Linked DNA regions of Homo sapiens. The protein of the gene in region 1 interacts with the protein of each later gene in a pairwise test. Each region holds a gene or a part of one and is shown on either strand. Other genes may lie near its edges.

Evidence for each region.
Region 2: the proteins of TSNAX (region 1) and NTAQ1 interact in binary tests that used the Homo sapiens proteins (3 or more experiments, as listed by UniProt).
Region 3: the proteins of TSNAX (region 1) and KRT31 interact in binary tests that used the Homo sapiens proteins (3 or more experiments, as listed by UniProt).
Region 4: the proteins of TSNAX (region 1) and NUP58 interact in binary tests that used the Homo sapiens proteins (3 or more experiments, as listed by UniProt).

What each region holds. Positions count from the first base shown.
Region 1 is NC_000001.11:231,524,145-231,531,680, forward strand, and holds the start of TSNAX (translin-associated protein X), read left to right. Parts: upstream 1-4,524; 5' UTR 4,525-4,666; coding exon 4,667-4,682; intron 4,683-5,110; coding exon 5,111-5,215; intron 5,216-7,536.
Region 2 is NC_000008.11:123,412,461-123,419,782, forward strand, and holds the start of NTAQ1 (protein N-terminal glutamine amidohydrolase), read left to right. Parts: upstream 1-4,313; 5' UTR 4,314-4,389; coding exon 4,390-4,472; intron 4,473-7,322. UniProt on the Homo sapiens protein: Mediates the side-chain deamidation of N-terminal glutamine residues to glutamate, an important step in N-end rule pathway of protein degradation.
Region 3 is NC_000017.11:41,394,604-41,402,588, reverse strand, and holds the start of KRT31 (keratin, type I cuticular Ha1), read left to right. Parts: upstream 1-4,980; 5' UTR 4,981-5,049; coding exon 5,050-5,397; intron 5,398-5,593; coding exon 5,594-5,676; intron 5,677-6,012; coding exon 6,013-6,169; intron 6,170-6,965; coding exon 6,966-7,127; intron 7,128-7,218; coding exon 7,219-7,344; intron 7,345-7,520; coding exon 7,521-7,741; intron 7,742-7,985.
Region 4 is NC_000013.11:25,297,233-25,304,632, forward strand, and holds the start of NUP58 (nucleoporin p58/p45), read left to right. Parts: upstream 1-4,392; 5' UTR 4,393-4,541; coding exon 4,542-4,648; exon of another isoform or gene 4,649-5,776; intron 5,777-5,869; exon of another isoform or gene 5,870-5,923; intron 5,924-7,400. UniProt on the Homo sapiens protein: Component of the nuclear pore complex, a complex required for the trafficking across the nuclear membrane.

The DNA.
Region 1 (7,536 bases):
ACCAATCACATTGTCAGGCATAAACCAGGCACAGAAATATTTGTTGAAATATTGTCAAACCTATAAAGTACTTTACATACTTTTTTGTTATGGAGTATTAAAAATAAACTTAAGCCGGCCAGGCACAGTAGCTCACACCTGTAATCTCAGCATTTTGGGAGGCTAAGGTGGGCAGATCACAAGGTCAGGAGTTCAAGACCAGCCTGGCCAACATGGTGAAACCCCATATCTACTAAAAATACAAAAAAAAAAAAAAATTAGCTGGGCATGGTGGCACACACCTGTAATCCCAGCTACTCAGGAGGCTGAGGCAGAAGAATCGCTTGAACCTGGGAGGCAGAGGTTGCAGTGAGCCAAGATCGTGCCATTGCACTCCAGCCTGGGTGACAGAGCGAGACTGCATCTCAAAAAAATAAATAAATAAAAATAAAAATAAAAATAAACTTAAGCCATATTGTTTAATGCTTTTTCCTAATAACATTGAATTATCTATATATTTACATGTATATAGTAAATTTACATATATATATATACACAATATATTTACAAGACTTGAAAGGAATGTTTCCCAACACTTTTAAAAATTTGTTTTAATAGCTTCATTGAAGTATAATTCACATGTAACTCATCATTTAAACTGACTGATTCAATAATTTTTAGTATATTCACAAATAGGTGAAACCATCACCCTAGTCAATTTTAGAACATTTCCGTCTCCTCACAAAGAAACCCTACATCCTTTAGCTATCACCCCTCCACCTCACTGTTACATGGCCCCTAGCCCTAGGCAACCTTGAATCTACTTTCTATCTATAGATTTGCCTATTTTGGACATTTTATATAAATGGAATCATATAATAAGTGGTCTTTTGTGACTGACTCCTTTCACTCTGCATAATGTTTTTAAGTTTCATCCATGTTGCAGCATGAATAGTACTTCATTCCTTTTTATTGCCAAATGATATATCATTTTGTTTATCCATTTATCTACTGATAGACATTTGGGTTATTTCTACTTTTTGGTTATTGTGAGTAGTGCTGCTATGAACATTTGTGTTCAAGGTATATAGTTAACAGTGGAATTGCTGGGTCATATGGTAATTCTATGTCCAACTCTTTGAGGAACTGCCAAATTGTCTCCTATAGTGGCTGGACCATTTTACATTCCTACCAGCAATTGATCAGGGTTCCAATTTCTTCATATCTTCACCAATTATTATTTTCTGTCTTCTTTTTAAATTTAGTCATCCTAGTGGATTTGAAGTGATATCTCATTGTGGTTTTACCCATCACTCTTTACTTCTTCAATATGAGCTTCTCTTTCTTGTGTTATAAAACTGGAACATCATTTTCTCCTACTACATCCTAGCATTGCTTGAAAAATAAATCTTTGAATTTATTCACAATAAAGGTAATGTGTACACTTCACAATACCACTCTGGATCCCACAGATATCTTTTAAATATTATGGTTATCTTTTAAAAAACAGAAACTCCAGATTCTTACAATTCCCCATGATCTCTTCTACCCCAGGATTTAGTTATTTATGTAATAACTAAATAAGGGAAATGCTGAAATAGATAATCTGTTAATTATCTTCTCTTTACTGGATTATATGATTTTCCTTCAATATCCAAAACCAGTTTTTTTTGTTTGTTTTTGTTTTTGTTTTGAGGTGAAGTCTTGTTCTGTGGCCCAGGCTGGAGGTCAGTGGCGCTATCTTGGCTTACTGCAAACTCCCGCCCTGGGTTCAAGAGATTCTTCTGCCTTAGCCTCTGGGGATTACAGGTGCGTGCCACCACACCCAGATAATTTTTGTATTTTTTAGTAGAGACTGTTTCACCATGTTGGCCAGGCTGGTCTCGAACTCCTGACCTCAAATGATCTGCGCGCCTTGGCCTCCCAAACCAGTTTTGATATGCGATTTTTCTCTTAATCTAATGGTGACCAATGAGAGGATTTATGAACTGAATAACCACCATGCAATTGAAAGGCTTAGTGCTTCATTCAGAGTCAAATATAGGCAATTAGAATGCAACAGGGGGCCAGGCACAGTGGCTCACTGTAATCCCAGCACTTTGGGAGGCCTAGGCAGGTGGATCACTTGAGCCCAGGAGTTTGAGACCAGCCTGGGCAACATGGCGAAACCCCGTCTCCACAAAATGGAGAGAAAAAAAAAATTAGCCGTGCATAGTAGCATGTGCCTGTAGTCCCAACAACCTGGGAGGCTGAGGTGGGAGGATCACTTGAGCCCGAGGAGGTCGAGGCTGTAGTGAGTGAGCCGTGGACTGCAGCCTGGGTGACAGTGAAACCGTGTCAAAAAAAAAAAAAAAAAAAAGCAACAATAACAAGTAAAAACAACATCAGAGGTAAGATCCTACTAAAAATCTTTACCTTCCTCTCCCTGACTTGGGGTGGTTGTCTTCCTTTAAAAAACAAACAAAAAACTGTTTTGCCAAGTACCAAAACTATGTGTTTGCATCTGAAGCAATAAAACAAGGAGACCAGGTAGGGATGCAGGTTGTTACAGAAGTTGAAATCTATTTCCTGACAAAGGAGTAGCTACAAGTTGGAACACCTGGGGAGGCCTGGGGTAAATGCATATGCAAATAAGTGCTGGGAAAGTGCTCCTGGGATTCACCTCCCTTAAATACTTTCAGAAGTCATTACAGGTTATGAAACTTAGTGTTCTAATCATTACATTTATGGGAAAGAGTGGAAAGCAGTTCAGGTAACATAGCTGTAGTTGAACAGGCTAGGGGAGTGGTGGCTGGAGAAAGAAAAGAAATATAGTTGATCCAGGTTTTGGAAAGTTGAGATCTTGGGATGTGCTACTCCAGGAGAGTTAGGAAAAATACCCTTTTCCTCGACTATGGTACAGTACAGTAAGTATTGACTCTGAAAATGTTCGTAAGTACTGGCTTCCTTGGATCTAGAGGGAGTCACATTAAAATGGCTACATTTGTATCAGAGCTGTCTTTTATTCTTTTTGGCATGGTCAAGTCATTTCTAATCAGAGTAGGGGGAATACTGGTAGATCAGACGTCACTCAAACTCATGAGAATTATCTGTTTAACATCCACAAAGCAAGTAGCCCAACAAGCAAGGTCCCCAGGAGCCTACTTTATCCTCAAGGAATCTGCTTAGTCAATTGACGTATTCACAGGGCTGGAGAGGTATGAGTGGTGGTTACCTTCGTGCCAGAGCAGAACATGCCTTGTAGTTACTGCCATATTCTAGCCAAGTTACTCCATTTACTGTTCCTTTGTTCCTAAATTAACAAGGAGAAAAGACTGTGTGTTCAACACATGACCACAATAGAGAGGTTATTTAGAGAAAGCTTAAAATGTACTTGTGTTTTCTGTACTAGGCCTAGGGCACCCCAGTTATGAAGCCTTGGCCTGAGTTTCTCTCTAGACGGTGCTGAATTGCCATCTAGTTACCTATTCTGACACCAGGAACATGATTCTTCAACAAACATTGACGGAAGCTTACATGGGACCGGATCACAGCGCTGAGAAGCACTGGGGCTAAGGGGCGGCACAAAGTCTAGATATGGTGGCAGCACCTGCTCATAATGAAATGCCCACAGTTTAGTGGAACACAGCTGCTATTACTCACCTGTCTATCATTTTGTTTGGGAGAGCCCTGGTGGGAGAGGAGTATGGTATTTAATATTTAATTGAGCAGTTATATGTGAAAGAGCGTTTTCACGAGACTTAACTCCTTTCATCCTCAAATAACCCTACAAGGCGGGTACTATTCTATCCCTATGTTACAGATAAGGAAACTGAGGCAGAGAAGTTGCGTGCTTCATCAAGGTCACACAACCACTCCGTGGAGGCAAGTTGAACACAGGCTGTCCGGCTTCTGAGAGCCAGTGGAGAGGAGGGAGACGGTGGGAGACGGGCAGGGGGAAAAGGTGGAAGTAGACCCGAAGGGCAGGCTTGATCTTCATAAGAGAAAACAGTACTAACACCATCCACTGATTGACTCGCATATTTCCATCACTTAAAGCTCCTGGCGTCACTGCCAGGAATGGAAAGTTAAAAAACTCCCAGCTCTGTAAGGTTCTGCCTGGATCCTGAAAAAAACCTTCCCACATGCCCCGAGGAAACTCGAGGGCTCGCTTCTTTCTCACATCCCTGGCCCGGGGCACCGGAGGTCCCGCTCCGGCGGAGGAACTACAACCCCCACAGCACCGCGCGCGAAGCTGGGCCCCCCTGAGGGAAGGGTAAGGTGTCCCGAAGGTGCCTTCAGAAAAAAATTACGTACGTTTTTCGTCGCTTTCCCACGATCACACAGATCTCAGGTCCAGGAGGACGCATCGTCTTTTTAGTAACAGTGCATGCTGTGAGGCTTGTAGAGTCGCCTCTCTCTTCAGGCGCAGCAGAGGGCGGCCGCAATAGTACGCTCGCGCGGCGGTGGCGGGTGGTGGTCCTTGGACCACGCGGTGGGCGGAGCCAGCGGCGACGGCCTCCCCTCCCCTCCGGACGCAGGCCGGAAGTACGTGAGAGGAGACTTCCGGCCACTGCGTTGTAGTCGGCCCGGCTGCAAAGCGTTTTTCTGCAGGCTGTTTTCCCAGGTTCCCTCGGCCTGTACCTCGCGCACTCCTCTTGCTCCAGGTCCTTCAGTCTCCGCTCGTCTCACCGTAGGCTGTGACGACATGAGCAACAAAGAAGGTGGCGTCCTTAACAACACGGGGCGTTATTTATCCGGAGGGGGAGGTTCTCCAGTCTTTCTATGCAGTTTTCCCCTTTTCACCCTTGAAGGATGCCTTCGTCCCTTGTAGACTCGGGGGCGGCCCCTCTGTTTCTCTCCCCGGCCAGATCGGCCCTGTTTACACCTCCTTTTTTCTTAAATTTTTGAGGTGTGATTTTATCCTAGTTCAGTAATTGCTGTAATGCCAGATCATAGCACCAGTTGGTGGAAACTTGGATGATTTGCTTGGAAAGGCCTGGGCAGCGTCTCTGTCAGTCTGCGGAGAAAGCCTCTAAGGCGAGGGCCCTGTGGGTATCTGGTTTTAAAGCAAGGAGTAGGTTTGTCTATGTTGTGTTTTGCAAACTCTTGGTGATGGAAGATCCCTCTCTTTTTTTCTTCTCTATATAAGGATCAGGAGGGTTCAGGAAAAGGAAGCATGACAATTTCCCACATAACCAAAGAAGAGAAGGGAAGGATGTTAATTCATCTTCACCCGTGATGTTGGCCTTTAAATGTAAGTTCTCTGCAATGTAAGTTGAAGAAGGGGAGAGAACAAAATTATTTAGCCATGGTTATGCGCAAGAAAACAGTCCCTAAGAATTTAATGTGAAACTTTAGCTGGAGGTTTTGTGATGGCGCTAGATGTACCCTAAAAGTCTGGATTACAAAGGCCTTCACTTTTATGTCCCATTAAGAGAAATATTAGTAATCAGGTAAACATGACTTAAACACAAGAAACAGTAAACATTAATTAATATTTGACATGTCACATACTCAAGAATTGTGTACCTGATAATATTTACTCATCTGTTATATGCTAAAATATATTTTCATTTAGTGTGTATTTGTTTCCTCTACTAGACTTGAAGACAGGGACGGTATCTTTGTTTTAACTGTAACACTTAGCACAGAGTGGGAGCTTGTATCTATTAGTGAATCTCGCATATCTATATACACATATTTTCACAGTCCCCTTTTCTCAGCATATTAACTTGGACAAGTTATTCCTCAATTCAAAACAAACACAAAACAAAATCCTCTTCCTTTTGTCCCTGTCTATCCACTATCCTGTACCTTACGTTTCTGTGATTAAGGAATCTGGGAAGGGCTTAGCTGGTTGATTCCTATTTGCAATCACCTGAAGCCTTGATTGGGGCTGAAGGATCTACAGCTGTTGATAGTTTAGGCCTTTTGCCTGCAACCAGCTCTCTGTTCCTGTCCACATGAACTTCTTGTGCTGCTTGGATGTCCTTTGGTGTGGCATCTGGCCTCCTTCAGAGAGAGAGAGTGCAAGAGAGCAAGGAGGAAACCACAATCTCTATGTCCTAATCTCAGACATCAGACACTGTCATTTTTGTCACATTGTGTTTGTTAGAAGGGAGGCAGTTTTAAAAACTGTCTCACATTGAAGAGGAAGGAAGTTATGTCCCACCCTTTGGAGGGAGGAGTCTCAGGTTATTTGTGGATATATTTGAAAACCACCACAGTATCTACTGTGATCGTCAGAAGTTTAAGACAGCTGGCCGTAATTGAATAAAGAGCGTACTGATACAGAAGGTGGAGTTGCGGCTGGGTGTGGTGGCTCACGCCTGTAATCCCAGCACTTTGGGAGGCCGAGGCGGGGGGATCACGAGGCCATGAGTTTGAGACCAGCCTGGCCAACATGGTGAAACCCTGACTCTAATAAAGTACACGGTGAAACCCCGTCTCTACTAAAAATACAAAAAATTAGCCGGGCGTCAGTAGTCCCCACTACTTGGGAGGCTGAGGCAGGAGAATGGCGTGAACCCAGGAGGCGGAGCTTGCAGTGAGCCGAGATCGTGCCACTGCACTCCAGCCTGGGCAACAGAGCGAGGCTCCGTCTCAAAAAAAAAAAAAAAAAAGTACGAAAAATTAGTTGGTCGTAGTGGGAGGTGCCTGTAATCCCAGCTACTCGGGAGGCTGAGGCAGGAGAATCGCTTGAACCCGGAACGCGGAGGTTGCAGTGAGCCGAGATCGCGCCTTTGCACTCCAGCCCCGGCGACAGAATGAGACTCCATCTCAAAAAAAAGAAAAGGTGGAGTTGCTTCTAAGGTGGTGTCCTCATTACCCGTCTGCTGAACTACAGTTTTTTGGTTTTTTTTTTTTTTTGAGACAGAGTCTCTGTCACACAGGCTGAGATAATAATTAGGCACGATCTTGGCTCACTGCAAAACCTCTGCCTCCTGGGCTCAAGCCATTTTCCTACCTCAGCCTCCTGAGTAGCTGGGACTACAGGCGTGTGTCACCATGCCTAATTTTTTTAAATTTTTTTGTAGAGACAGGGTTTCGCCATGTTGCTGGAGGCTGGTCTTGATCTCCGAGCTCAAGCAGTCTGCCCGTCTCGGCCTCTCAGAGTGCTGGGATTACAGGCGTGAGCCACTGCGCCTGGCCTGAACTACAATTTTCTTTAAGACCTAGCTCAAGTAGCCTCTTTCCTGTGAATGCGTTCTGATTTTTCTCTCAAGCCGACTTGGTGACCAACATGAAATATTTATTGAGTATCTGCTATGTTCTCGCATGTATTAGTAGTGAACAAGAAACGTGGTTTCTGCTTTCATAAGTTTTTTACATATATTTGTTATAGCATGATTACATTTTATTTGTTTACATCTCTGTCCCTCATACAGGACTGAGCTCCTTGAGGATAGGAATTGTTCCTTATCTAACTTTGTGTTCATAGTGTCTGACTTACAGTGGTCATTAATATAGCCATAATAAATAATGAATACATATTGATTATCTTAACCCTGGCCTAGTTATTATCTCAGTAATAAAAGACTAGATATATTTAGATCCATGTCAGCTACTAATTTA
Region 2 (7,322 bases), on another chromosome or scaffold:
CTCACTCTGTTGCCCAGGCTGGAGTGCAGTGGCGTAATCACAGTTCACTGCAGCCTCAAACTCCTGGGCTCAAGCAATTCTTTTGCTTCAGCCTCCTGGGTGCCTAGGACTACAGATACCACCATGCCTGGCTAATTAAAAAAAATTTTTTTTTTGTAGAGACAGGGTCTTGCTGTGTTGCTTAGGTTGGTCTCAAACTGACCTCAAGCGATCCTCCCGCCTTGGTCTCCCAAAGTTCTAGGATTACAGGGGTGAGCCACTACACCTGGCCTATGTAGTTGTTTATTACGTAGGGTACTGAGTACTGCAGAACTCTCAGCACAACTTGGTTCCAAATCCCTGCACTAACAGACTTGACCAAACTCTAGCATGGCTTCTAGCAGTATAAGGCTATGTCAGCCTTCTCCCCCAAACCCCCCATTAAAATGCCTGCTTAAGAAAGCTCAAAGCTCCCAGGAAAATTTACTATTTGTTGTTGCCAGTACCTGATGATAGGCCCCTGACCTCCTTTTCTTAGAGCATTTACTAAAAGGGCTTAGAATTGTAAATATGTATTACTTACAACTCAGAAGTCCTTCTCAAGGACTTAGAGAGCCATTCCTTTGAAATGTAATCATCAGGAAGGATAGGGCCTCTGACTCCCAGTCTCTGTGGGAGGATAGAATCCTAACTTAGATAACTGCCAGCTAGCAGACACGACTGGCCTAATGGTATTTACACTGACCAACCCTTTGTAATTTTCACTTCCCTGGCTCTAATGAGCGCCCCCCCCCCCCCAACTCCTCCCTGCTTCCTCATTCTTCTTTCCAAATGCCCAAATTACCTCTGCACAATTGGAATGGAGCTCAGCTCTTTCCCCTACTGTCAATAGTTGCTGAATAAAATCTGTTTTCATCGCTTTGACTGATGGTCAACGGCTATGTTTATTTTTGACAGTACCTATGTTCTGCCAGGCACTATGCTAAGTGTTTTGCAGAGATTAGTTTATTTAATTTTCACTGCAGCACCCATTAGATAAGCACTCTACTATTATTATCCTCATTTTGCAAAGAAACTGACGCTCAGAAATCCTAGTGTTACTTATCCAAGGTCACTCAGGGTAGTAAGTAGCCAAGATAAGATTTGAGTGTGTTTCTGACTACAGCACTATTTATACTATTCTACCTCTCAGGGCAAGACCCATGCCCTGGAAGAGCTCATGGCAGAGGTAGAGACAGATTGAGTTGCTGAGCATGCTACTGCTTTTCAAGACATATGAATAAAAGTTGTGACAAAACAGGAAAAAAAGCTCCAGGAAGATGGAAGCCAACAATAAACTCTTCCTGGGAAAAGCTGCAAATAAGGCATGTGAAAGAATGCATCAGACAGAGTGTACATACATCTTGTGCAAAGGCTTGGGGTATCAAAGGAAGAATAAGACACTCAGTGACAAGAGTATGGCGGCGGGGAGGGTGGCCGAGGCGGGCAGATCACTTGAGGTCAGGAATTTGAGACCAGCCTGGCCAACATGGTGAAACCTCACCTCCACAAGAAAATACACAATTTAGCTGGGGTGGTGGGGGCGGAGGTTGCAGTGAGTCAAGATTGCACCACAGCACTCCAGCCTGGGCGACAGAGTGAGACTCTTATCTCAAAAAAAAAAAAAAAAAAAAAAAAAAAAGTATAGGGTATGCGGGAAATAATGAAATCAGATTTTTTTAACAAAAAATCATAGTTGCTAACATTTATATTATATGCTACCAACTATTCTAAGTACTTTATATACATAAACTCAACTAATCCTCATAATGACCCTATGAGGTAGTAGCATTATCTTTAACTTCATTTTACAGATGAGGAAAGTGAGACACAGAAGAGTGAAGTAACTTTGCCCAAGGTGACCCAACTGGCAAGTTGTAGAACCTACCCAGCCTAGCTTCAAAGTCCTATAGTAAGTAGTTTGTGCCCAATCAGGATAAGAAACTACACAGTAGGTCAAGCAAGGGAAGTTAAATGTAAAGAACTATTAATTATGTTAGCTGCGCACGGTGGTGCGTGCCTGCAGTCTCAGCTACTCAGGAGGCTGAGGCTGGAGGATCACTTGAGCCCAGGAGTTTGAGGCTGTAGTGAGCTATGATTGCACCACTGCACTCCAGCCTGGGTGACAGAGGGAGACCCTGTCCCCCACCAAAAAATTATTATTAACTATGATAAAGGCATAACGATAACACATAAGGAAACTCTATTCAGTACCTTACCGTATAGAAGGTAGGGTTAGGGAGGACCCTGGTTTTTGTGTCAAGAGGCTGAAGAAAGGTTATTGCCAGGCTAAACCTGCAAGGTTAGGAAGGGACCATGTTCTGAGTCTGGGGCTGGGGCAGACTCCACAAGGATGTTCTCACCACTACACCTGTCCCACTCACTTTAAATGGAGCATTTAGACCATTTACATTCAATGTTAGGATTGACTTGTGAGGTACCATTCCATTCATCGTGCTTTGTTGCCTGTGTACCTTGTTTTTTTTTGTTGTTTTTTAAATTGTATTTTTGTTGTATAGGTCCTGTGTGATTTATGCTTTAACGAGGTTCTGTTTTGATGTGTTTCCAGGATTTGTTTCAAGATTTAGAACTCCTTTTAGCAGTTCCTGTAGTGGTGGCTTGGTAGTGGCAAATTCTCTCACCATTTGTCTGAAAAAGACTGTATCTTTCCTTAATATATGATGCTTAGTTTCGCTGGATACAAAATTATTGGCTGATAATTGTTTTGTTTGAGGAGGCTAAAGATAGGGCCCCAATCCCTTCTAGCTTATAGGGTTTCCCACTCACTTTAAAGGAGAAATGTTTACCAGAGTTGTTATATAGCATAGAGGCTATGTGGAAGTTTGTATTAGGAGCTGAGAGGCAATAAAATTGGTAATTGACACAGGAACTGTGCTCCAAGTCTTTAGGATTTATCAGCTTTGAGACTGAAGAGATTGGAGAATCCAACTGTGGATGGCTAAAATCAATGTAAACATCTCAGTTTTTATAATGGGAAGTACCCTGATTAGCTAGCTATGCTCATTGCAAATATAAACAATTCAGAAGACTGTAAAGTGTAAAGACCTTGAAACTGAAAGTCCCTGATATTAATATCATTCATTCACCAGAGATAAACACTATTTTTTTTTTTTGAGACGGAGTCTCACCCTGTTGCCCAGGCTGGAGTGCAATGGCACCATCTCGGCTCACTGCAACCTCCGCCTCCCGGGTTCAGGCGATTCTCTTGCCTCAGCCTCCCGAGTATCTGGGATTACAGGCGCGCGCCTCCACGCCCAACTAATTTTTGTATTTTTAGTAGAGACGGAGTTTCACCATGTTGGCCAGGCTCGTCTCGAACCCCTGACCTCGTGATCCACCCGCCTCGGTCTCCCAAAGTGCTGGGATTACAGGCGTGAGCCACCGCACCCGGCCCTAAACACTATTTTAACAATATGGTGTCTTTTCTTCCAGACTGCCAGTAATTGAACAAAATATATGATTAACACAAAAAGGATACCATATGGACTCTTTAAACTTTTTTTTTTCAAATTTACTGTATCAGGGAATTAATATATCTTTTCGAGCCAATAGCTACAGGCCTTCCAATTTAAAAGATTAAGTTACAATAGAGTGAGATTTGGGGTGCTATCCCTTTCGGAAAGCGTCCTCGATGCGGTCATATTGGAATTAACCTCCACTCCCCTCTTCTCTGGGCTCCCGCAGACTCCAGGCTGAGTGCAGAAGCGTGGATTTTCACACCCAAACCTCTGTTATTTCAGTGTCTCACCTGGCTTCTCCACAGCGCAGAAGCTCAGCCCCTGGTTGGAAGAGCCTCCCCGCGGAGATTCACAGCAAAGCGCCATTCAGGGCCCAACTCCAAGCCCAAACCTAGCTCCTCCCCAAGCCGCCGCCAGAGACCCCTCTTCTCCCAAAGCTCACCGGGGCCCCGCCCCTGACTCCGCCCACCAGAGCCCGGTCCTCCAGTCCCGCCCCATCCCGGGCCCCACCCACCAGCCGGGCTCCGCCTACCCGGAAGCGCGCTGTCCTCCTCGTCCCGGGCTCCGCCCACCGGGAGTTCGCGCCACTCACCCCACCCCGGACCCGCCCACTTCGCTTGGGCTCCACCCTCCCAGGAACTGGCGCCGCTTGCCCCGAGCTCCGCCTACTTCGTCCCGGGCTTCCCGCGCCGGGAACTCGTGCTGCTAGTCCCGCCCTGGCCCCGCCCACCGCGCTACTGGCCCCACCACCCGGAAACTGCCCCGGCCCTCTCCCCCCGGGCTCCGCCCACCCCACGCCGGGAACCCACGCGGGCCACTACAAGCCCGCCCTTTCCTACGTCTGGTCCAGTCGGTCTTCCTCCGGCCCGGGCCCTGGCCCAGCTAGCCGGCCATGGAAGGTAATGGCCCCGCTGCTGTCCACTACCAGCCGGCCAGCCCCCCGCGGGACGCCTGCGTCTACAGCAGCTGCTACTGGTGAGGGGGCGCGGGCGCAGCCTCTGGGTCTCCCAGGCTCCCGGGCGGCGAGTCGCAACCGGGCCCCGCCTCTTCCCGGCCCCTCCTCGGGGGCGCTCCCGGCCTCTACCGGCGGGTTCTACAGTTTTGCGGGAGGAGGGAGCGGGAATGGCAGCTCTCGTCTCTTGAGTAGAGCGTGGGCTATTGGATGGGGTTGGGAATTCGTCCGGAATCATAGGGTCGATAGTGCATTACCTGTGCCTGGCGCTTGTCGGTTGGATTTGCTCAGCAGATCTCTGCTTCGGGGCCAGGAAGGGTGGAGCTCTGAAAATCTTTGGGGGTTACTCTGCTGAAGCCTGTGGGGTTTCAGACTGAGGTGAAGGTCATTTTAATTTTGTAAGAGAATGAAGGCACGGAGAGTTTTTCATACAGCACTTGCTATATGCCACGCGTTGTTCTGGGTGGTTTAGGTAAACTAAATCACTGAGCATCACAATAACCGTAAGAGGTAGGTATTGTTATCCCCAGTTGAAAGATGAGAGCACTGAAGCACAGAGGGCTGCAAGTAATTTGCGCAGGGCCACGTAGCTTGTGAATGAAGGAGTGGGGATTTACAGTCAGGGTCTGGCCCCGGAATCCACGCAGTGCACCCCTGTCCTAGGCCACCTCTGCAGCTGAAGTACCGCCCTTGCCTTAGTCCTCATACCTACTCTTTCCTGAGTAATGGCTTCTTCCCCAGCTTCTAGTCCTTGTACAGGAAACCTCAGTGCTATCTAAACCTACTCCTCCCCCTTCTGCTGGTCACTAAACCAATGCCACCAAGAGCTTAACATTTGTTCGGCCCTGATTGCATGTCAGGCTCAGTGGCAGGTGCTTCCATCGATGTCCAGGAGGTACCTTCTTTTATTATCGTTATCCTCATTTTACTAATAAAAAGACTGAGCCACAGAGAGGCTGTTCTGTGCCCCCAAATCACACATCTAGCAAGTGGTGGTGCTGAAACTGGAACCTCTTCGTGATTCTGAAGTTCATGCATCTTAACTACTGCACTATTTTTCTGTCCTGCCTCTCTTCTAAATCCCGTTAGTTCTCCTCCCTAATGTCCAGTCATTGTTTTATTCATTCATTCAATAAATGTTTATTAGGCACTTGGAGTATGTGGCATACTTCTGGGCACTGGGGATATAGCAGTGAACAAAATCGACAAATTCCCTCATGGATCCCTTGGTTCTTTCATTTTGAGAGAAAAGCAGATAAGGCCCGGTGCGATGGCTCACGCCTGTAATTCCAGCACTTTGGGAGGCCGAGGTGGGCGGATCTCTTGAGGCCAGGAGTCTGAGACCAGCCTGGCCGACATGCAGAAACCCTGCCTCTACTAAAAATACAAAAATTAGCCAGGTGTGGTGGCGTGCACCTGTAATCCCAGCTACTCGGGAAGCTGAGGCAGGAAAATCGCTTGAACCTGGGAGGTGGAGGTTCCAGTGAGCTGATGCCACTGCCCCTTCCTGCCTGGGCAACAGAGCAAGACTCCATCTCAAAAAAAAAAAAAAAATAAAAAGCCAAAAAAACAAGTAAACCATGTTTGGGTGATGTTAAATACTATGAGAAAAATAAGATAAAGGATGGTGACTTATCTTCTATTAGGATATTTTGAGAAGACATTGTTGATAAGGTGATATTTGAAAAGAGATCTGAAAAAAGAGGGTGGGAGCTTTGCAACTATTGGAGGATGGTTGTTTAAGCAGGGAGAACAGCAGGTACAAAGGCTCTGAGAAGGAATGGTGCTGTGAGTGTGATAGGAACAGTGAGGAGGCTGGTACAACTGGAGTATTGGAGTTAGAGCAGTCTTGTAGAAGAATGGTAAGAGATGACCACTCTACCACAGAGTTTCTCCATCTTGGCTTGAGTGACATTTTGAGCATGATAATTCCTTGCTATGGAGGCTGTCCTGTGTATTGCAGGACGTGTAGCAGCATCCCTGGCTTCTACCCACTAGATACTGTTAGCACCCTAGCCCTAGTTATGACAACCAAAAATGTCTCCAGACATTGCTAAGTGTCCTGTAGGGGTTGGGGGGCAAAATCGCCTCTTGCTGAGAACCAGTGCTCTACCCTGTCTGAACACATCAGGTGGGGACACCACACTACTTTGGCTCCTGCAGCTTTGGGGGTTTTTTTTTTTTTTTTTTTTTTTTTTTTTTTTTTTGAGACAGAGTCTCAGTCTGTTGCCCAGGCTGGAGTGCAATGATGCCATCTTGGCTCACTGCAGCCTCCACCTCCCAGGCTCAAGCCATTCTTCTGCCTCAGCCTCCTGAGTAGCTGGGACTACAGGCACCCACCACCATGCCCAGCTAATTTTCGTATTTTTAGTAGAGACGGGGTTTCACCACATTGGCTGGGCTGGTCTTGAACTCCTGACCTCAGGTGATCCACCTGCCTCAGCCTCCCAAAATTCTGGGATTACAGGTGTGAGTCACCGTGCCCGGCCATCCTGCAGGTTTTTTAAGTTGAAATGAATGCCTCCTGTCTACTTCTGTTAGCTTCCGTCATGTTAGCTTCCAGATGTTACTTACGCTTCAAGACCCTGCTTAATGATAATAGTGGCAGCCAGTATTTGTTTGGGACTGTGTCGTCAGCAGAGCATTTCTGATTCTGACTTAATTGTTTTGTGTTTTTCAAACAATTGTGGAGTGCCTGCTTTGTGCCAGGGGTCCTCCCCATCTGCATGCATCTCTGACCTCAGCTCATCACTGGGAACCCCTGGAGTGTCCCAACCTTTCTGCTGCCAAGATGATCAGCTGACAGCTTGGGGCAAATCCACAGCCCTCCCTCCCTCCCTCCCTCCCTTCCTTCCTTCCTTTCTTCCCTCCCT
Region 3 (7,985 bases), on another chromosome or scaffold:
TTTCTGCCCACACCACATCCCTGGAATGATTTCCTATGCTGCACCTGGCAAAAGCCTCTTTCATTTGCTTTGAAACTTACCTTGATGCCCATGGATCCTGTGGGGATGCCACAGGGCTGAAGCGATGGGCCATCACCACCGCCTCTCCTGTGGTCTCCAAAGCAACAAGAACCAGATGCCAAAACAATTCATTACCCTGCCTGGCTGAAGACTAGATTATTAAAGGGAACAAGATTCTAATGAGAACAGTTCTCTGAATTCTGCTTATGAGTCACTTAGAGAGCGAAGCACAAAAAACTCTTTGGGATCAAGTGCATAACCTGAAATGGCTTCATCCCCTCGCCGTGTGGCTGAAAATCATGAGCTGGATTGGAATGCCCTGAATGGGGTTTGGGTCAGGGGTGGGTGTAGGAAGAAATGGAGTGGGTAGGGGAAGGAGATATTTTTGGGGGAAGGCCCAATCACATTACATTATGCTAGCTGTGGACCTGTCTGCTCAGCAGGACTCAGAGTTCCTGGGGGCAGGGACATGACATACCCCCACTCCCCACCATGTCCCCTGCCCCTGGGACTGTGCCAAGCACACAGTAGATGTTCAACAAGTGACTAATGCCCATAATGTCACATGTACAGTTTTCTTTTTATTTATTTTTAATTTTTAGATGGGGTCTTGCTGTCGCCCAGGCTGGAGTGCCGAGGTGTGATCATGGCTCACTGTAACCTCAAATTCCTGGGCTCAAGCAATCATCCTGCCTCAGCCTCCAGAGCATCTGGAACTAAAATGTGCTCTACCAAGCCTGGCTCATTTTTAAATTTTATTTTATTTTTATTTTTTTAGATGGAGTTTCGCTTTTGTTGCCCAGGCTGGAGTGCAATGGCGTGATCTCCGCTCACCGCAACCTCCGCCTCCCGGGTTCAAGAGATTTTCCTGCCTCAGCCTCCCAAGTGTCTGGGATTACAGGCATGTGCCACCACGTCCGGCTAATTTTGAAACTCATTTTTAATTTTTTTTGTAGACATGGGGTCTTGCTATATTGCCCAGGCTAGTCTTGAACTCATGGGCTCAAGTGATTCTCCCACCTCAGCCTCCCAAAGTGCTGAGATTACAGATGCAAGCCACTGCACCCAGTACCCGTTTTCTATTTACACTGAATACAAACATATTTCTAAATGCCCATCTTACACCTTCTAAATATCTCCTTTCCTTAACTTCTGGCTATTTCTCATACATATTGAGGACCCATCTTGGCCGGAATTGTTCATAAAAAGACATTTTTTTCACCAGAACTATGATTCTTCTGTTTAGTCATATGCTCAGCATAGAGAAGCTGTCTAATCAATGTGTTCTGAATTAAATTGAACTGGATAATGAATGTGGGTTTGATAGCCCATTGACTGCTCAATTTCTCCTTGAATGAAAAAAATTTGCAAATATTCCAACTAGGAAACCAAGAGAATACATGAATTCTACCCCTCGCCTGTGTGAGGTCATGGGGATCTTACAACCCTGGGGTCCCATTTTCCCCACTAATTCAAGGAGCAAATTCACTCAAGCCCATTGAGATCTTGAAAACACTGCAAGAAAGAGGCTAGATTCACAAGAGATGGCAGCATTGTGTTTACTCACCAGCTAGTCTGTCTGTGGTCCCCATCTTGAATTCTTGTGCCATTTCACATTCTGCAGGGCAACCAGCAGGTAGAAAAAGGAATATCTAGGAGTAACCAGAAGATAACAGGGGTTTCTTGTTCTCTCCTACATCTTCTGTGTGGCTGCTGACTGGCCATGACCTGCAGCCAGTGCAGGACTGACTCTCCCTGCTTCATTTCTCCTTTCTTCTCTTCCCACTTCTTATTCCTTCAGGAACAGGCAGTGTCGCTCCTTTTAGACTTTACACTGCCTGTGTGTAGATGGCAGTATATTTCTCAGCCACAAACAATCTCAAGCTTGATCACAGAGGTGATGCTTCGGTCTGGACAGCTTGGAACAATGTCACTTCTTTCAGAGGCCTCAGAAGCTGTAGTCCTGTGTCCATAGATCTTTTATGAGTCAACTCCATTTACGCCTTGCAGGACACTCAGCACGGTGGGCCACTCCTCAGTCTATTGGCTTATTTTGTCTTGGCTTCTTCTCAGCTTTGCATTTTCCAGGTTAGCCCCTCGGAAGCTGGGCTAACTTTGTCTGATTTGCTGCATGATGCTGAGGATTCCTCCCAACTTTTTTCCTTGTCTCTTCTTTTTCTTGTTGTCTCTCCTGGTCTCCGTCTCTTTCCATTTCTCTGATCTCTCTGCATTGTACAAAAATTCTATGTTTGCTCTCTTGTCAATACAATCCTTGAATCTTCTCATACTTAGAGCCTAAACACTCTTCTTTGACTACAGTCTCCATGAGGCTATGCCAGCCAATCAGTAGATAGGAATCAAGAGCTTGGAGAATACTGCTGGCATTTAGTTTGGGCTTAGGTTAAAGCCTGCCTGACTGGGGAAGAAGAAAGGGCTGAGGAAATAGCTGCTTGCTGGAAAGCCAGTGCTTGGAGCAGGCTGACAAGAGTTAGGAAGCAGAAGGCCTATGCTGTCATCTACAAGCTAGTGCTCATCAATCAGATGCACGAGCCTTTCCATTCATCCCAAGCCCAGATGAAATGAGACAGAAGCTCCCCACAGACAGCTGCCACCTAGCCTTGCGTCCTTCCTCTGGAGAGTCTCAGGAGTAACAGTCTGTAGACCCGCCTATTTCTCCCCCTTTAATTGTCTTGTAAGGAAACGAAAGTATTGATTTTATTATAAGTCTAGATCTTCTTTGTAGTGCTGTGGGGCTTTTCATCTGAATGGCATTATAATAAGCAGTGATAATGGTCTTGGGGAGTGTAGATGAAGGACCTTTTATCTGAGACTCAAGCAGAGTGCAACATGAATACCATCATGAAAGCTCAATGGGAGAAGCACTCCAATAAATTGTCAATAAAACGGCAGCTCTGGCTGGCAGCCAAAGCCACAGTGGAGATGGGGGTGCTGCAACTTTTATATATTCAGAACTTTGGCTACCTCTTCCTCAGATCTTCTAGTGCCTTCCTTCACCTCCCAAAGCAACCCCAAATGACTCCAGCTTGCCTTGCAAAACCCCCTTGCTCATGCCGTGCTCAGCATTTTCTTTCCTGGTGCCCAGGTCCTTGGATTTAATTACACAACCACAGAGACCTCCTTTGGTACCTTTAGACCTTTGGTTCTTAAAGCAGGTGGCATCTCCACTCGGGCTGGAGATGGGAAGCCCAGGACAGAATATGGTACATCTTCCTGATGTATCCATTTCTCTTAGAGAATTAAGCAAAGTATTTGAAAGTTTAACTGGAAATTTAAAAGGGGCTTTTTAAAAACATTAAAGCTGGCTGGGCGCGGTGGCTCACGCCTGTAATCCCAGCACTTTGGGAGGCTGAGGCGGGTGGATCACGAGGTCAGGAGATTGAGACCATCCTTGCTAACACGGTGAAACTCCATCTCTACTAAAAATACAAAAAATTAGCCGGGCGTGGTGGTGGGCACCTGTAGTCCTAGCTACTCAGGAGGCTGAGGCAGGAGAATGGCATGAATCTGGGAGGCGGAGCTTGCAGTGAGCCGAGATCGCTCCACTGCACTCCAGCCTGGGTGACAGAGCAAGACTCCATCTGAAAAAAAAAAAAAAATATATATATATATATATATATAAAGATTAAAGCCAACATGGATATATTATGGAATATAGGGTCAATTCATATGAAGTTTAAAGATCAACTACAAGTGATTTCAGGCCGTGGAGGCCCCTTTGGGCTATCTCCTGACTTTCCTAACATATCCATCTACTCTGTTCGGATACTATGGATAACCTTAGGAAATGTTTGACAAAGACCTCCTTATTCCTTTCTCTCTGCCCCTGAATATCTTTCCTAGATTATTTAAATGCATTTTTTTTGTTTTGTTTTGTATTTTGAGATGGAGTCTTGCTCTGTCACCAGGCTGGAGTGCAGTGGCACCATCTCGGCTTACTGCAACCTTCACCTCCCAGGTTCAAGTGATTCTCCTGCCTCAGCTTCCCGAGTAGCTGGGACTACAGGTGGGTGCCACCATGCCCAGCTAATTTTTTTGTATTTTTAGTAGAGATGGGTTTCACTATGTTGGCCAGGATGGTCTCTATCTCTAGACCTCGTGATCCGCCGGCCTCGGCCTCCCAAAGTATTGAGATTACAGGCGTGAGCCATTGTGCCCAGCCTTAAATGTGTTTTTTATGGCTCTCTCGGTTTGCACTTTTCAGCCTCTTTCAAAACGATCTCTTACCCCAGAAACTTCTTGTTCTCCAACTAGTTATCAAAGCCTCTACCTTTAAAATTCTCTCCTCTACAATTTTCTTAAGTAATATGTGGTGGTGGGGGGGAAGTATTACACGGACCCGTAAAACACAAATCGCTGTCTAATCTTTTCAGTCGTGTCCTCCATTGATTCTAATCATCCACCTTAAGGCTTCCAAGGCACAGAATGCTCCATCATTTGAAGATTCTTCTCTAAATGCAGAGGGAAAGACAGTCCACTGTGGCCTCTTAATGCAACTTCTTCCTCAAATCAATCCGTGTTTCTCCCTAGAAACGGCAGGTGGACCAGGACATGAGTATGTTTATGGGCCTGCAGAATTATGTGACACAAAAGAATGTCATCGGATGGATCAACACCTCAATTAATGAGGGCAGATACTTGGGCTGGACTGTGTAGCCTCTTTGAAGGCCTACCACAGAACTCTGATTTCATGGGTGGACTGTCTGCGGAGGAGTCCTGACTTAGCAAGAAGCCCAAGTAAAGAATTTTATGGGAGAAGGGACTCTTCAGAGGAAGGCAAATAACAGACTGAAGGAAAGGGCGTTTGAAAAGAAGTGAAGAAATAAAAAGAAAAAAGACATTACATACTGTGTCCACACCCTCTGCAGTGGGATATAAATGCTCCCTAGAGGAAGGAGACCCACAGCTCTGTGGCTTGGAGAATTTAGACTCTGTCTTCAGCCAGGCACTCCCTCCCTCCCTCCCAGCACTATGCCCTACAACTTCTGCCTGCCCAGCCTGAGCTGCCGCACCAGCTGCTCCTCCCGGCCCTGCGTGCCCCCCAGCTGCCACAGCTGCACCCTGCCCGGGGCCTGCAACATCCCCGCCAATGTGAGCAACTGCAACTGGTTCTGCGAGGGCTCCTTCAATGGTAGCGAGAAGGAGACTATGCAGTTCCTGAACGACCGCCTGGCCAGCTACCTGGAGAAAGTGCGTCAGCTGGAGCGGGACAACGCGGAGCTGGAGAACCTCATCCGGGAGCGGTCTCAGCAGCAGGAGCCCTTGCTGTGCCCCAGTTACCAGTCCTATTTTAAGACCATTGAGGAGCTCCAGCAGAAGGTGAGCGGCATTGCTGTCATCTCCAAGCAAGAGAGTTTGCTGTGATTCTGTCTGTGATAGAGAAGTGTGTTTCTTGCTTCTGTGCTGTCATAATTCTTGCTTCCTCTTTTATTTCAAAATGGCTTAAGTCATTTTTAAAAAGTTGATGATTTCATATTTATTTTCAGTCCTCACTAAGCCACCTCTCACTCCCCAGATCCTGTGTACCAAGTCTGAGAATGCCAGGCTTGTGGTGCAGATCGACAACGCCAAGCTGGCTGCGGATGATTTCAGAACCAAGTGAGTTGTTCGGAATTTGCACTAGTGTCAATTGCTTCTGTTTAATCTTTAAAGAAAAGGGATTTCCATCTGAAAACAGATCTACCCACTTGTTGTGAAGGATTCTGCAGAGGACTGGGGAGAACCAAGCAAAGAAATGCAAAAATGGATGAGGACTCACATCAATCTGTTTGTTTTGGGATGAATATTGGGTATTGATGGAGCCTCCAGAAACCTCTGTCTCCTGGGCCTATTCATTACAGAAAGTGGAAAGATAAGGCACATGAGGTTATCAAAAATCATTCCTGTGAGTCTTGAAGATCTACCAGGTAGTACTCTGACCCTGTCCTTGCGCAGGTACCAGACCGAGCTGTCCCTGCGGCAGCTGGTGGAGTCGGACATCAACGGTCTGCGCAGGATCCTGGATGAGCTGACCCTGTGCAAGTCCGACCTGGAGGCCCAGGTGGAGTCCCTGAAGGAGGAGCTGCTCTGCCTCAAGAGCAACCATGAGCAGGTGAGACTAGAAATGAGAAATGCACAAACCTGTCTCAGCCTCTGGCTCAGGGTTGCTTTAGTGATTTGGGGCAGCAGAATGCAGAGTATGAGTACAAGACTGAGGGTTTCCTTTGAAAACATCACGGTAAGAGAAAAATTGGAGAGAGATAAGACCTGTTCATGTTCCCAGACAGGAAACATCTTTCACTTTAAACTAGCACATTATTTGAGTTGCCCGGAGCAGCTCCATGTGCTTGCAGTTGATCAATAGTTGTAGAATGAGTCCTAGCATTGCAGTGTTATTGCTTTGTAAAGTCTTTTTTTTTTTTTTTTGGCAAAGGCCAAGAAAAAAAATATCAAACCTTATAAATGTGAGTCTCTACTCTTTCAAAGTATTGGTGAAGAGTGTTTGTGAGATTCTTCCTCTCTCTTGGGAGGGGCCATGACATGCTCTTACCTCTTACTTGACAGCAAGAGTTTTTTGATATATGGTCTGAAATTGCACAGCCTATTTTTTTTGGCATTCTGAGGTCCTCACAGCCAATTGTAAACTGGGAAAGTTGAATATCAATTAGTTCATCCTTCAGTGGCATCCAAGCAAACTTTTGGGATTTTTTTCTGAAGCCAAGTGCCATGGCACAGCAGATGGTGGGGAGGGGGCTATGCCACATGGAGTGCCTTGAGCTGTCACAAACTGCTCCACTCAAAGTTTCTTTTCCGAGAAAATAGACTAACAGGGTTTCAACAAGCAATGCCATTCCTTAGAGTTCATTCTTTGCTGAGCATAGTAACTCTTGTATTTTCTGCATCCATAGGAGGTCAATACCCTGCGCTGCCAGCTTGGAGACCGCCTCAATGTGGAGGTGGATGCTGCTCCCACTGTGGACCTGAATCGGGTGCTGAACGAGACCAGGAGTCAGTATGAGGCCCTGGTGGAAACCAACCGCAGGGAAGTGGAGCAATGGTTCACCACGCAGGTGGGCATCTAAGCACGTGGCCCCTCAGGACCCAAGGCCCCCCAGGGCCCCGGAGGCAGGGTCTGATCCTTTCTCCCCTTGGGTGTTTCAGACCGAGGAGCTGAACAAGCAGGTGGTATCCAGCTCAGAGCAGCTGCAGTCCTACCAGGCGGAGATCATCGAGCTGAGACGCACAGTCAACGCCCTGGAGATCGAGCTGCAGGCCCAGCACAACCTGGTGTGTATTGTTCAGACCTGCTGGTGAGCGACGGGAACTTGGGAGGCAGAGTCCCGGGGATGTGCTTGGGGCCACACACTCTCCTTAGCTCTTGGAGCTTGTGACTTCCTTGTAATCCTGTGAAGAAACCCTTTGAAGGAGCAGCTCTCTGACATTCCCAATCTTCTCCACCACAGCGAGACTCTCTGGAAAACACGCTGACAGAGAGTGAGGCCCGCTACAGCTCCCAGCTGTCCCAGGTGCAGAGCCTGATCACCAACGTGGAGTCCCAGCTGGCGGAGATCCGCAGTGACCTGGAGCGGCAGAACCAGGAGTACCAGGTGCTGCTGGATGTGCGTGCCCGGCTGGAGTGTGAGATCAACACATACCGGAGCCTGCTGGAGAGCGAGGACTGCAAGTGAGTACATGGGCAGACGTGTTTGATGAAATGATGCACGTGTGAGTGTAACAGTTAGACACCATGCAAATATTGCATACCTTGGAAAGGAAATTATGCCTTCACACTAGACATGCTCAAACAGAACTCAGACAACATAATATGGCCATCATTTAAAACATAAATGGTTTGGTAGCAAGAGTTGTTTGATGTACAAACTGAAATTGCACTGCCAAGTCTTTGCATTCTAGTATGATAATATGCA
Region 4 (7,400 bases), on another chromosome or scaffold:
ATAACTCCTTACATTTATTTTTCTCATTTATTGGGTGATGAGTGAAAAAATTCATCAGGAAATAGACAATTACTGTTCTGACCTGTGATTGGGAACTTTTGTTTTAACTTTAAGCTTTTCCCCCTTAACTTTGTAGTTTGAAAATTTCAAACCTACAGAAAAGTTGTAAAATTATTACAATGAACACCCATATACCTTGTTTTGACAGTCATCCTATAATTTGCATTATTGATTTATCTCTCTATATACATTTGGTTGTTGCTGTTGTTCAATCACTTGAGAACTTAATGAATTTTTAAAGTGGAAGGACACTACTCAAATATTTAAAACCCTAAAATATTTAAGACCTTTTCTGAGAATAATTTTCAAGATAAAGACTGTGATTGAAGGCAAATGGTTACATGTAATTTCTAAAAGATAACCTCTTTTCTGGATATTTCAGAGGACCAGAACTGGAGATATTACAGACTCCTTTCAATAGACTTCAGATTCCCACTTCTTTTCTGTCTTAGAACCGCTGCTGAGAGAGGTTCTCAAATGGTTATCCTGATCTGAACACCCCCACCAAAGCAAACCTATTTTAGATATGTTAATGCAAACACAAATTAGAAGTTTTAGCCTGGGCAACACGGTGAAAACCCATCTTTACAAATAAACAAATTAGCCGGGCATGGTGGTGGACACCTTTATGTAGTCCGAGCTACTCGGGTGGCTGAGGTGGGAGGATCGCTTGAGCCAGACAGGCAGAGGTTGCAGTGAGCCAAGATGGTGCCACTGCACTCCAGCCTGGGCACAGAGCCAGACCCTGTCTCAAAAAGGAAGAAAAAAAAAAAGTAAATTTTTTACAGTGCTATTTCTGTTTGGATAATTCAGTTTGATTATGACATTAACAATGTCATCATCCTGCTGGCAAATCAGCAAAAGATGCAGTTCTCTAACAGAATGCTTACAATATAAGAAGCAAGGAAAGACAAGATGGCCTACTCTAGAATTTAGAATCTGAAGCACTTGCTTCATCCCTGGAAGCAGCAATTCACATAGAACTGACACATAGGTTCAAGTCCTCTAATGTTAAAAAGCGTAATATTTAGAAGATCCTTTGGGATAGGATTTGTTACTCTACCTAGACTAGGTCAGGAAGGTTAAGCCAGATTCCAGTGCTCCATGGTTCTGCTCAGTTGCAGATAGGATTCAGACTTATGTATGCGTAATGCTCAGTTACTGCTATTTTACTGTTTTCCATTCACTAACCAAACCATTGAGCTTATTGAAAGCTGCTTTCTTTGGAGTTTCATTTCTGTAGAATGTAAGGATGTAATTTCTTTCTTCACTAATAGGACAAGCGGCACAAGGTATATGAGATGAGAAGGGGTCTCCAAGATTTAGTCTTATACTTAGTGCATCTAGTGGTAGATTGCAATACTGCTCATCAGATATTCCAGATTTTGTCTCTGCAGTGCTCCTCCTTGAGTGATTTGGGGATTTATTATGTAGTATAACTTAAAATATTCTGCCAGATACAAGGCAAGAAATGCTACACTAAAATTTTGATAAAGTTGAAAGGATAGTTTGCTTGTTAATTGGAATGGCTTCCCCCAAAACCCAAACTTTAATCTAAGTCAGACTTCCTTTATTTCTTTTATAAACGTTCAGCTTCAAAACAGTTATAGATGTGGCTGGGCGCGGTGGCTTACGCCTGTAATCCCAGTACTTTGGGAGGCCGAGGCAGGCAGATCACAAGGTCAGGAGATTGAGATCATCCTGGCCAACATGGTGAAACTCCAGCTCTACTAAAAATACAAAAATTAGCTGGGCATGGTGGCGCATGCCTGTCATCTCAGCTACTTAGGAGGCTGAGGCAGGAGACTCGCTTGAACCAGGGAGTCGGAGGTTGCAGTGAGCCAGGATCTAGCCAGTGCACTCCAGCCTGGTGTCAGAGTGAGACTCCATCCAAAAAAAAAAAAAGTTACAGATTTACAGAATTATTACATAGTGTGCTCATATTCCTCACACCCAGTTTCCCCTATTAGGAAATTAGTCCCTATGATATTTTTACATGTTCTTTCTTTCCTGTGAATATTACAAGTCTTGTTCATTATTATATATTTAAGTGCCAGCCATTTTGCTATTACTAATTGTAGGTTGGTATTCTTCAATAGTTTTGGAAAGAATACACGAGAAAATCAAAAGACATAGGGAGTGCCTTTCTATCTTCCCATAAAAATCATCAGGATCTTTTTTTTTTTCAGTCAAAAGGAAGTCTCCTAGACTTTATGTGAACAATCCTCTTACTGACCACCCTATAGCCATCACTGAAAATAGCTTTCTCTATATCACCGAAGCTTTAAAACTCACAACAATCTTTTATTTTTGCCTCCTGTTCGATAACTATGAAGTTTTTATTTATATCTTAATCCAAATATATCCCTTTTTTCTTTTTTATCATTCCCATTATGACTTCTATGACGTTTAAAATGTTATGGCCGGGCACAGTGGCTTACGCCTGTAATCCCAGCACTTTGGGAGGCCGAGGTGGGCAGATCGCTTGAGGCCAGGAGTTCAAGACCAGCCTGGCCAACATGGTGAAAACCCATCTCTACTGAAAAATACAGAAATTAACCGGGCGTGGTGGCGTGCGCCTGTGATCCCAGTTACTTGGGAGGCTGAGGCAGGAGAATCGCTTGAACTCAGGAGACGGAGGTTGCAGTGAGCCGAGATGGCACCACTGTATTCCAGCCTGGGCAACAGAGCGAGACTCTGTCTCAAAATAAAGTAAAATATAAATTAAATTTAAAAAACAAAATAAAATGTACGTTTCTTTTTAATTATACAAACACAGAGGTGGTGTATTAGTCTGCTTGGCTGATACAACAAAATACCATAGACTGAGGTGGCTATAACAACAGACATTTACTTCTCTCAATTCTGGAGGCTAAGTCCCAGATAAAGATGGGGCAGTTTGGGTTCCAGGTGAAAGCCCCTTCTTGCTCTGTCCTCACATGGCACACAGAGGAGAACAAGCTCTTCGTTGTTTTTTCTCATAAGGGCACTAATCTCGCCATGGGCGACCCACCAAGGTGACCTCATCTAAATTGAATTACCTCCCAAAGGCTCCATCTCCAAATACCAACATATTGGGGTGGGGTAGGGCTTTAACATATGGATTGGGGGAGGAGGGAAATAGTTCAGTCCACAGCTGGTGGCAATGCCCAAGCTCAACGGAAGATTAAAGTACTGAATTAGGGAGAACTGTGAGATGAGGTTAGAAAGACTAATCATACGGAGGTCATCAAGTGCCAAACTAAAGAGCCACTGGGCTTTTTAGATCATAAATCCGGGGGTTGCTTATGGGATGGATTTTGTTAGAGATCACGAGTAGGAAAACCATTTGGGGGAGTAATGTAACAATCCCTGAGGGAAAAATAAAAACTAACACTATGATGACAACCCTCGAATGCACCACCACCAGGAAGCCTTTCCTGATGCTTCGCCAGAGAGGTTCTCTTTAAACGCGAATTTTTCTTGAGTTATCCTAGAAATGTAAGTTACACCTCACATTTCGCCTTCTTTCGTACATGTTCCTGTGCGTTTCCTAATCCTTCCACTTTGTAGTTCCTCCAGCACCGGTTGTGTCCGAGGGCCCTTCTGGCGGAGCCACACTCGCTCGGCCCAAGGTCCCGCCCTCCAGCATCAGGATGCACGGACAGTATTTGTGGACTTGACCGCATCCCAGGAAATCCAGCGGGCCTGGCCACTTCTGGGCGCCAGGACCACAGCCGGCCACCCCACGGACGCCTGGGACGCTCTTCTGGGCCCCCTTCGGGGCTGGGCGTCGGGCTCGCAACAACTGCGACCAACTGGCTCCGCGAGGCCTGGGGCGCAGGGGTGGGGCTCACGTCGTGGGACGGTTGCATGGATTATTTTCGATTGATTTCCGAACCTTCAGGAAGCAGACACGCTCCCCTTCCTTCTTAGGGATGGGGCGGCAGCCAACGAAAGCCCGAAGCCGCCTCCTTTTCTGAGTGGGGAGCTTAGAGATGCTCAGGAGGGACCTCCCCGATTCTGCGATTCTGAGCATCAATTTTGGCAGGAGGCTAGATAGAAGTAGCAATTGACATTCATCACCCTAAAGTGCGGATTATGTCAGTACAGATGCTACGATAGAAGAACTAAAAAATGACAGAAATGGTTTTACTGTTTTTAAACTCTGGGAGCCTACTCCTTTAAGAGATTAGGCAGTACGCCTATTCTCGCCTGGTCCCAGCGTACCTTGCGCGGCTCGCCGTCCCCCACTCACGTACCAGGGCTCATTGCGTGACGGTTACACTTCCGGCGGGCTACGTGCGCGCGGCGAGCGCCGGGCGTACTTTTGCGTGGTTGCTCCACCCCCTCAGCCTTGCCTTCGCCGCCGTTGGGGCTGGAAGTTCCCGCCAGGTCCGTGCCGGGCGAGAGAGATGCTGCCCGGCCCGCCTCGGCTTTGAGGCGAGAGAAGTGTCCCAGACCCATTTCGCCTTGCTGACGGCGTCGAGCCCTGGCCAGACATGTCCACAGGGTTCTCCTTCGGGTCCGGGACTCTGGGCTCCACCACCGTGGCCGCCGGCGGGACCAGCACAGGCGGCGTTTTCTCCTTCGGAACGGGAGCGTCTAGGTAACCGCACTTTCTCGCCTTCCTGGGCCGGATTCACCCCCACCCCCACCCCCGCAAAGCTCCCTTGGTGTCCCCATCCTGTCTCTTCCCTCTGGCTTCCTTCCCAGTGGGGCTGGAGAGAAGCACTTAATCTAGCCGCCCGGCGTCGTAGGCCTCTCGCCGCGGTACCCGGGCCCAGCGCGGCCTGGTGAAGTGGAGGGCGGGATGGGTTCTGTGCTGTGAGGTTTCCAGAATCCACGTATAGTTCAGGCATTATTTGGACCTAGTGGGGTCTTGACTGCGTGGAAGGGCCTTGGGGTCTACCCCGGAGCTTTAGCGATGTGTCAGTCTTAGGCATAGAATGAACATTGAATGAATGAATGAAATTATAGCATACTGTGGAGTTTTATGATAGATAATTCCGATTTCATTGCAGCATTTGCGGTTTTGGATATGACGGTGTTTTAATAACTTTGTGGTTTTTAACCAGCTTTTCAAGCTTTTGTGCCACATGGGACCTTATCTGTTTTTGTTAAAAAAAACAAAAACACTTTTTTACAGTGTTTATTAGTGGTAATTTTCTGCAGTATGTGCAGATTAGTATATCTGATGCGAGAATGTTGTGTTGTAATAACTCAATTTGTCTTTTACTTAAATTACAAAACGTAGGTAGCATGTTCCTTGTTTTTGTGCAACCCATTAGTTCAGGTGGCGACAAAAACATAACTATCCAGAAAGAAACAAAGTGGTGAGACATTTTAATGAGAGATTTAAGCTTTAGAACTCAATTTTTTTTAAGATAAAGGTGGAGGGGTTCATAAAGTTAAGGAGTGTGCACACTGTCAACAAGATACTTCCTGAAGCTTAAAAGATGTGGCTGTAGATTTAAAAGGCAAATACTTAAGCATGACCTGCAGTTTAAAAAGGGAGGGAGGAGGAACCACGGACTACACAGTCAATTCAGAAATTTGAATTTTCATCCATACCTCCGTTATTCTTACTCTACTCGCTCAACAACAGGTTCTGATAATGTTACTTCTGCCATTTCTGTTTGTCTTTATTTCCAGTTCCACAACCCTGCTTAGGCTATTGTCATTCGTGGAACAAATATTTATTGGACAGATTCCCATGTGCAAGGCTCTGTTTTAGGTATTAAGAGTCTTGCTCTCTTGATCCTTACATTCTTATGAAAATAATTTTGATTCTTGTCAGATTTTTAACCAGCTGTCTTTCTTGTTTTAGATGAAAACTACTCCAATCAACTTCTTCAATCTGTTCTGCCACATTTTAGCCAGAGTAATTGAAAAACAAAATTCCCATTGCTCTCTCTTTAATCATTACCCGCCATCGTTAGAATGAAGTTTAAAAAAGAAAAAAAAACTTACCATAGTCTGCAAGGTCCACTTCTGCTGGAACCTCTGGGGACTCATCTTGAGCGGGACTCATCTTGAGCCCATCTTTTTATTTTAGCTATGCAGACCCACTGTTAAAAACAAACACACAACTACCACCCTAAATAACTGAAATGAAGTTTCAGAGAAAGATACCCTTACTTCATGGGATGCACTTTGATATTTTCTATTTCTTTTTTTTTTTAATGTTGCTTATGACTTGATGAATTAATTTTTATATTTCTCTCATGGTCCTGATCTTAGAAAGCCTGTCCTAGCAACATGGCCTTTTCTCTTTTCAAGTGGGCTTTGCCAGCCCCTTCCTTGCAAATATCAAATGGTCTCTTCCCCAGAGAGGCCTTTTCTGACCTGTCAGTCTAGGGGAGATTTCCATTCTCCTAGTACTCTTAGAGTGCTGATCACAATTGTAATCAGTTTGTTATATTTATTGTTAACTTGTTTGTTGTCAGATCTCAGCACTAGAATAATTAATACCTATGTCTCTCACTGACTAGAAACTGCCTGAGGGCAAGGTCTGAGTCTTAATTTCCCACCTCATTGTCAGTCCCAAGGACAGTGCCTGGCATAGAAAAAGGGCTTTAATAACAATTTGAATGACTGAGCAAATGAGTTATTAGTAATAAGCTATAAAAAATTACCCAAGTTTTAGAGAGGCTTGGATAAATTAATGAAAGAGGAGACTGTCCGACATAAATTTGTTAGAGTGCTGGTTGGGAGGCCTGACAGCCCCTAGTGCCACCTAGTGATTTGATGTCTTGAGGTTGGTCATTTTAGGGGAGTTCTCACATCTGGAAAAGGAGTATAATATATTACCTGAGTTGATGAGTGAGATGAAGTATTTAAATATTTAGCATCAAGTCTGGCACTTGCTAAGTGCTCAGTAAATCTTAGCTATTATGTTAGCTACCAAGTCTGCATTAGGGCAAGCTGGGCAAGTTAAAATAACATTCCAGATGTGATTGAGTCAAGTTGGCTTTTCTACAGTACATCCTATCAAGTCCTTGGCAGATAACATTGGTTTGAGGCAATAATTGGTCAAGTTTAGGGTAGCTTTTGCTTTTCTTGAATTTAGTAAATTTCACTGCCACCAAAATTTCTCTCTTGCTTTTGTGGTAGAGAAAAATTTCATTTTGATGTGTTTCTTTGGCAGTATTTTCAACTTTCATTATGTAATACTTCATAATGTCTTCAGTTATGTTGTCAAGATTATATATATATATATATATATATATATATATATATATATGTATTTTTTTTTTTTTTTAAGACAGTCTCACTCTTGTTACCCAGCCTGGAGTGCAATGGCGTGATCTTGGCTCATTGCAACCTCCACCTTACGGGTTCAAGCAATTCTCCTGCCT